Homo sapiens: one gene and its partner. The protein of the gene in region 2 purifies or fractionates together with the protein of the main gene of each other region. This does not show direct contact. Each region holds a gene or a part of one and is shown on either strand. Other genes may lie near its edges. The genes, in order: GGPS1 and ZNF625.

Evidence for each region.
Region 1: the proteins of ZNF625 (region 2) and GGPS1 purify together in Homo sapiens (affinity purification with mass spectrometry; one large-scale study listed by BioGRID and IntAct). This does not show direct contact.

What each region holds. Positions count from the first base shown.
Region 1 is NC_000001.11:235,331,537-235,335,362, forward strand, and holds part of GGPS1 (geranylgeranyl pyrophosphate synthase), read left to right. Parts: intron 1-3,705; 5' UTR 3,706-3,728; coding exon 3,729-3,798; intron 3,799-3,826. UniProt on the Homo sapiens protein: Catalyzes the trans-addition of the three molecules of IPP onto DMAPP to form geranylgeranyl pyrophosphate, an important precursor of carotenoids and geranylated proteins.
Region 2 is NC_000019.10:12,149,979-12,153,804, forward strand, and holds part of ZNF625 (zinc finger protein 625), read right to left. Parts: intron 1-3,826. UniProt on the Homo sapiens protein: May be involved in transcriptional regulation.

The DNA of each region.
Region 1 (3,826 bases), on a different chromosome or scaffold from region 2:
TCAGGGACTATATGATCTCTGAGAATTTGTATGTTGTAAGTCTTTGTGGCAGTGTATACATTTGTGTTGCAACTTATTAACACATACACCGGGCTTTTTTTTTTTTTTTTAGAAGATTCATAGCTTTCATCATATTCTCAAAAGGTTTCTGTGACCCATGAGATGGTTTACAGTATGGGGAAGCATCAAAGCACTTGCACAGTTGATGGTTATATGTGTGTGTTATTATTTCAGCCACCCATTATCATGTGCTTACCAACTGCCTAACAGTGCATACATATGTAGAAGTTTTATTCTTTTCTCCTGTTGCCATATTATACGTCTCATTTCACAGCAGAAAAACAACTGCATGACAGAGACAATGTGGTTCAAACCATTTTACCCTTGTATTCATTGACTGCTACAAAACAGGAACATTAAATACCTGATTGTCACCAAATTGGGTAGTCTCAGCACTTCTACACTCGTAATTGTGCTGGAAAAGTGGAATGCTAGCACTAATAATTAGATTTTGGTTTGGAGGGTTTTTTATTTGTTTATTCTTACTTGTATAAATTTATGGGGTGCAAGTGTAGTTTTATCACATGCATAGATTGCATTGTAGTGAAGTCAGGACTTTTAGGGGGTCCATCACCCATGTAATCACGTTGTACCCATTAAGTAATCTTTCATCATCCACCTCCTTCCCACCTTCTCACCCTTTGGAATCTCCATTGTCTATCATTCCACACTCCATGTCCATGTATACACATTATCTAGCTCCCATTTATAATTGAGAAGATGTACTATTTGTCTTTTATGTCTGACTTGTTACACTTAAGGTAAGGGCTATCCATCCATTTTGCTGCAAATGACATGATTTCATTTTGTTTTAATGGCTGAGTAATCATTCGTTGTATATATACCACATTTTCTTTATTCAGTCATCTGCTGATGGACACTTAGGTTGATTCCATATCTTTACTATTGTGAATAGTGCTGTAATAAACACATAGTGCAAGATTTTGGAAATTTTACTTTTGTGGCACGTTGTTGGTATTTACTCAGGATCTTTGGATTTGCTTGGCTGCATGTATATGAATCAGTGTGTTTATTTACTGAAATATGTGCAAAAGTCTTGTCTTTGGTGGATTAATTTATAATATAAATCCACAAAAGTCAGATTCTGCTCCTAAGTATATTTTACATTTTTAAATTTAATGCCAGCAAGAAGTTACAGTACTAGAATTGCCTTACCCCTGAGAGTATCAATGATCAGATCATAGTATCAGGTGACTGGGCTATAGAAGATGACTTTTATTACTTAACATTATGAAGTTACTAGGGCTGATTTAGAAATCGAGGAACACTGGTGAAACCCCGTCTCTACTAAAATACAAAAATTAGCTGGGCGTGGTGGTGGGCACCTGTAGTCCCAGCTACTCAGAAGGCTGAGTCAGGAGAATTGCTTGAGCCCAGGAGGCAGAGGTTGCAGTGAGCCGAGATCGTGCCACTGCACTCCAGCCTGGGCGACAGAGTGAGACTCCGTCTCAAAAAAAAAAAAAAAAAAAAAAAAGGAACACATCCTCACTGTTACAATAAATAACAGTAGCCCACACCCCCTTAGTTGTGATGTGGTGTGATACCATGTAAGCAACCTATTTCCAGTTCCCCTAACATTCTCAAGCAGCTGTATCAGAATCATACAAGATGCATATTTAAATTGAAGATTTCTAAGTCTCTGGCCCAGACTTAGAAAAAAAGGATCAGGCCGGGCACAGTAGCTAACACCTGCAATTCCAACACTTTGGGAGGCTGAGGCGGGTGGATCGCCTGAGGTCAGGAGTTTTGAGACCAGCCTGGCCAACATAGTGAAACCCCATCTCTACTAAAAATTCAAAAAATTAGCTGGGCGTGGTGGCAAGAACCTGTAATCCCTGCTATTCGGGAGGCTGAGGCAGGGGAATCACTTGAACCCGGGAGGTGGAGGTTGCAGTGAGCCAAGATTGCGCCACTGCACTCCAGCCTGGGCAACGAGCAAAACTCCGTCTCAAAAAAAAAAAACAAAAGGACCTTTGAGCAATCAGAATAACACAAAGTACATGAACTGAACTTCATTTTCTTCATTCAAAAGAAAGTGGCCCTCACTCAAGCAAATATATTCTTGTGCTTTATCTTCTGGCATACTGAGATAACTTTCTAAAGTGGTTTCCAATTCCAAAATCCAATGATGTGCAACTCATTGAACAGCCCTAACCACAAACTGCCATTAGATGCCATATTACATTTAGCCTTTTTGTTGTAGAAAAGTTGGTTAGAAGTGGGCTCAGGATTCTAAAGACTAAATCATAGTCCCAAGAAGCAAAAGAAAGAGGATAAAAGTAATAAACTTCCCAAAATGTGCCAAAGATGCTAGAGCAGTTAGATTCCTAATATGAGGACAAGTAATAATAGAAACAGATACAAAGAAATAAAGTAGAGATTCAACAGTACAGGGAGACCCTAGGAAGACCATGAGTGTTATTCTAGGAAATACTGAAATAAGACAGATTTCAGTATAAAGGGGAATATGTTTAATAAATATATGCATTTGAGTTAATGCGTATTTTAAATCAGAAATCTCTGAAATGGATTGATTGTAGAGAAACTACTAGGGGGACGAGGAGAATCCCTTTAAATTTTAAATACATAAAACATACTCATCTTAGTGCTCATTTAAAAAAGGATATGTTTACTAATTAGTGTAATCAGTTAAATACAGAGGTATCTTTCCAATTCTTTGGATGTGTTTTGACATTTGCCGTCAACAAATTAAGCCTTTTGTGGTTGATTAAAATAGGAAAAGCTTAATATAAGTTATGTGACTAAGAAAACAACTTAAAAACCAAGACAACACTTTGACCAATATAATCACTTGAATGAAGAATTTTCTAATTGAGATATAATTTACATACCACCCATTTAAAGTGTACATTTCAGCAGTTTTTAGTGTATTCACAGGGCTGTGCAACCATCACAATTTAATTTTATAACATTTTGATCCCTGCGAAAAGAAACCCTGTACTCATTAGCAATTAGTCCCTGTTCCTAACCACTAATCTACTTTCTTTCTCTGTAGATTGGCTTATTCTGAACATTTCGTATAAATGGAATCATACAATATGTAGTCTCTTGAGATTGGCTTCTTTCACTTAACATGTTTTCAAGGCTTCATAGCTGTAGAATCTTGCTTTGTTTTTTTGAGACTGGAGTCACTCTTTCGCCCAGGCTGGAGTGCAGTGGTGTGATCTCAGCTCACTGCAACCTCTGCCTCCCGGGTTCAAGCAGTTCTCCTGCCTCAGCCTCCCAAGTAGCCAGAACTACAGGCACACACCACCATGCTCGGCTAATCTTTGTAGTTTTAGTAGAGATGGTGTGAAGGCTGGTCTCGAACTCCTGACCTCATGATCTACCCACCTCAGCTAATTTTTCATATTTTTAGTAGAGACAAGGTTTTGCCATGTTGCCCAGGCTGGTCTCGAACTCCTGGGCTTAAGCTATCCGCCCGCCTCAGCCTCCCAAAGTGCTGGGATTACAGGCGTGAACTACCGTGCCCAGCAACAGAATCTTCTTTTTAAACCAGACTAGGTGTCTTTTCACAAACACCCTGCAATACAAATTCCTTTGCAGTTTGACACTGAAAGATGATTAGTTTCATGTGATCTTTATGTTTCTCCTTTTTGACAGATTAGCTTTGAAGTTTAAATCCAATGGAGAAGACTCAAGAAACAGTCCAAAGAATTCTTCTAGAACCCTATAAATACTTACTTCAGTTACCAGGTAATACTTCACTTACAGTCCATATAGG
Region 2 (3,826 bases):
TTTGCTCACTGTGACCTCCCAAAGTGCTGGGATTACAGGTGTGAGCCACCACGCCCGGCCCGACCTAAGTATTTTACACAACAAAGTTTCCGGTGGTTATTGAGTGCTTTCCTCTCATGAAAAGTATTCATAAACAAAATAGAAAAGTTTCCAATGCAGCCATTCATGGCTCTGTGGAAAAATGAAAAACAAAATACTACAGCTCTTTCAAATACATCATGGTGGACACACTGATGAAGATGTCGATTAGAGAGGGGAGATGGGTGCTTTGGAATGTGGGAAGGGAATCAGAAATGTAAGGATTTGTTGTTGTCCCCATGAAAAGGTAGCTGTGGGGGTCTCAAGGACTCCCTCTTTGACAAGGCTTTGACCTTGTCCTACAAAACCCAGTTATAGCAAAGATCCTTCTAAGGGAGTTCAGAGAAACCCCACCCTGGCCCCTCCAAACGTGATACCCAATGAAGTTCTGTTACCCCTATTCATAACTCATCAGCTTTCTCTTCTGTAACCCTTGATACCTCACCAAGTTCCATCCTCTCCCTCAATTTACCCTTGAACTATAGGTTCAATACTGTTGTTGCTGCATGCAAGGTTGAGGTCAATCTCTCTCCCATATTACAGTTCTCATGACCCACATCACAACTGTCCTGAATAAAGCCTTCTTTGACATTTTTAACACGATTTCAGTACAATCTTTTTTTACAAGGGACAGGGACTTAGACTTGAAACCCTGCTTCACAAGTCTGGAATGCATAGGGGATAATATGCTCTCTCCCTGTGGGAAGGAAGGAGGGTGTCCTGAGAGTATCTCCCACTCACATATCCAGAACTCTGGGTCAGACTTCTCTCCTCATGACCACTCCTTGTTGTCACTCCATAAACTGGGTGAGATGGGGGACTGTGGATACACCATTACCCAGACAGTGTTCTACGGTGGAGCTCGCCTCCTGCAGTGATGGGACACAATGCCTGGGAGTCCTGTTTGCCAATTCAGCCCTTACCTTGTGTCATAAAGGAGACTGAGGTTCCAACTGAGATGGATATATGTGAGGACCAGGTGTAGAATTTTCAAGTTTTTCTTCCATTTGGTGAATACTCTTTGCAATTTATTTCTTCTTTTTTTTTTTAAGCCTATAGCAAGCAGTATTCTCATGCATTCTATAAACCATGCAGTAACCAGGCTTGAATCTGCTCAGCTGCTAAGATCAGCTATACTCTTGTATTTCTTTTTTTTTTTTTTTTCTTTTGTCTGAGACAGAGTCTCACTCTGTCATCCAGGCTGGAGTGCAGTAGTGCAATCACAGCTCACTGCAGACTCAACCTCTGGGGTCAAGCAATCCTCCCACCACAGCCTTCTGAGTACCTGGGCTCACTGGAGCATGCCACCACACCTGGGTAATTTTTTTTTTTTTTTTTTTTTGAGACGGAGTCTCGCTCTGTCGCCCAGGCTGGAGTGCAGTGGCACGATCTCGGCTCACTGCAAGCTCTGCCTCCTGGGTTAACGCCTTTCTCCTGCCTCAGCCTCCCGAGTAGCTGGGACTACAGGCCCCGCCACCACGCCCGGCTAATTTTTTGTATTTTTAGTAGAGACGGGGTTTCACCGTGTTAGCCAAGATGGTCTCGGTCTCCTGACCTCGTGATCCGCCCGCCTCGGCCGCCCAAAGTGCTGGGATTATAGATGTGAGCCACCGCGCCTGGCCAGTTTTTTTTATTTTTTGTAGAGACATGGTCTCACTATGCTTCCCAGGTTGGTCTTAAACTCCTAGGCTCAAGAGATCCCCTTACCTCAGCCTTCCAAGTTCTGGGATTCCAGATGTGAACCACTAACCTTGACCATACTCCTGTATTTCTTCATTGTGTCTTTCAAAACAGAAAAGCTTAAATTTTAATGTAGTCAAAATTACATACTTTTTCTCTGTTCCTAGTGTTTCTCTTGTCATATTATAGCCTCTTCTTCCTAAACCTAAGATCATGAATATTTTTGGGTGGCACATTCTGTAGCAACAAGAGGGTGAGGTTCTCCTTTGTTCCCAGAGGAGAATGAGACTGGTGTATTCTGCAGGCTAATAAGGAAATGAAACTCACTATACTATGGAGGATAAAAGTATATAAATTTACACTATAACAGTATAATGCCATATAGGCTAATACCGTTTATATGTGGCACTTATATATCATATACACGTTACATGTAATATTTACCAATTACCTACCATAACTAAACCATATACTGTATATAAATGCAACATATGTACATGTATATGTGTATATATATACACACACACTATATCCTGTACTAGATAATGCTAGATTCTATTAAAATACTGTACATGAATATCTCCTTTAAATTTCAAAAGAAAACACCTCACCAATATATTGGAAAAGAGAATCCTATAACAATATCATACCCGTGATGAAGTGGCATTCAATTCAGGAAAGCAATGCTGCTCTCACCTCTGAAAATCCATTCATGCAATACACCATAATAGTATAGGATCAACAGCAAACAACACAAGAACATCATAATAGATGCAGAAAAAGCATATGACAAACCTCAACATTTCTTCATGATAAAAACACTCGGCCGGGTGCAGTGGCTCACACCTGTAATCCCACCACTTTGGGATGCCAAGGCGGGAGGATCACAAGGTCAAGAGCTCGAGACAAGCCTGGCCAGCACGGTAAAACCTCGTCTCTACTAAAAATACAAAAAATTAGCTGGGCGTGGTAGCATGCGCCTGTAATCCCAGCTACCCAGGAGGCTGAGGTAGGAGAATCGCTTGAACCCAGGAGGCAGAGGTTGCAGTGGGCCGAGATCATGCCATTGCACATCCCAGCCTGGATGACGGAGCGAGACTCCATCTTAAAAAAAAAAACAACAACAACTCAATAAACTAATAATACAAAGTAACTTCCTTAACTTACTATAAGGTATATATAAAAAATGCAAAACTACCCTCATTCGTGATGGTGAAGGACTAACTGCTTTCTCCCAAAGATGAGACACAGACAAGGATGTCTGCTCTCATGCCTTCTACTCAGCTTGAGAAAGGAGATGCTACTAGGCCAACCAGGTCAGAAAACAAAAGCCTAGGCGGGACGCGGTGGCTCACGCCTGTAATCCTAGCACTTTGGGAGGCCGAGGTGGGTGGATCACGAGGTCAGGAGTTCAAGACCAACCTGGCCAAGATGATGAAACCCGTCTCTACTAAAAATACAAAAATTAGCCAGGTGCGGTGGCAGGAGCCTGTAATCCCAGCTACTTGGAAGGCTGAGGCAGAAAAATCACTTGAACTTCGGGGGAGAAGTTGCAGTGAGCCTAGAATGCGCCACTGCACTCTAGCCTGGGCGACAGAGTGAGACTCCATCTCAAAAAAAAAAAAAAAAAGAAAAGCCCTCCAGATTTATAGTAAAGACACATGCACGGCTGGGTGCAGTAGTTCATGCCTGTAATCCGGCATTTTGGGAAGCCAAGGCGGGTGGATCACCTGAGGTCAGGAGTTCAAGACTAGCCTGGCCAACATAACAAAACCCTGTCTCTACTAAAAATACAAAAATTGCCGGGTATGGTGGCGCAGGTCTGTAATTCCAGCTACTTGGGAGGCTGAGGCAGGAGAATCGCTTGAACCTGGGAGGGGGAGGTCGCAGTGAGCTGAGATTGTGCCAGTGCACTCCAGCCTGGGTGACAGAGGGAGTCTCTGTGTCAAAAAAAAAAAAAAATACATGCAGTGATTCTGGCAGGCATATAGACTGTCACTGCCCATACCGGTGTACAAACTGAGGCAGAAATACAAAAAGGCAAAAGACTTATGTTAGTTTTATATTT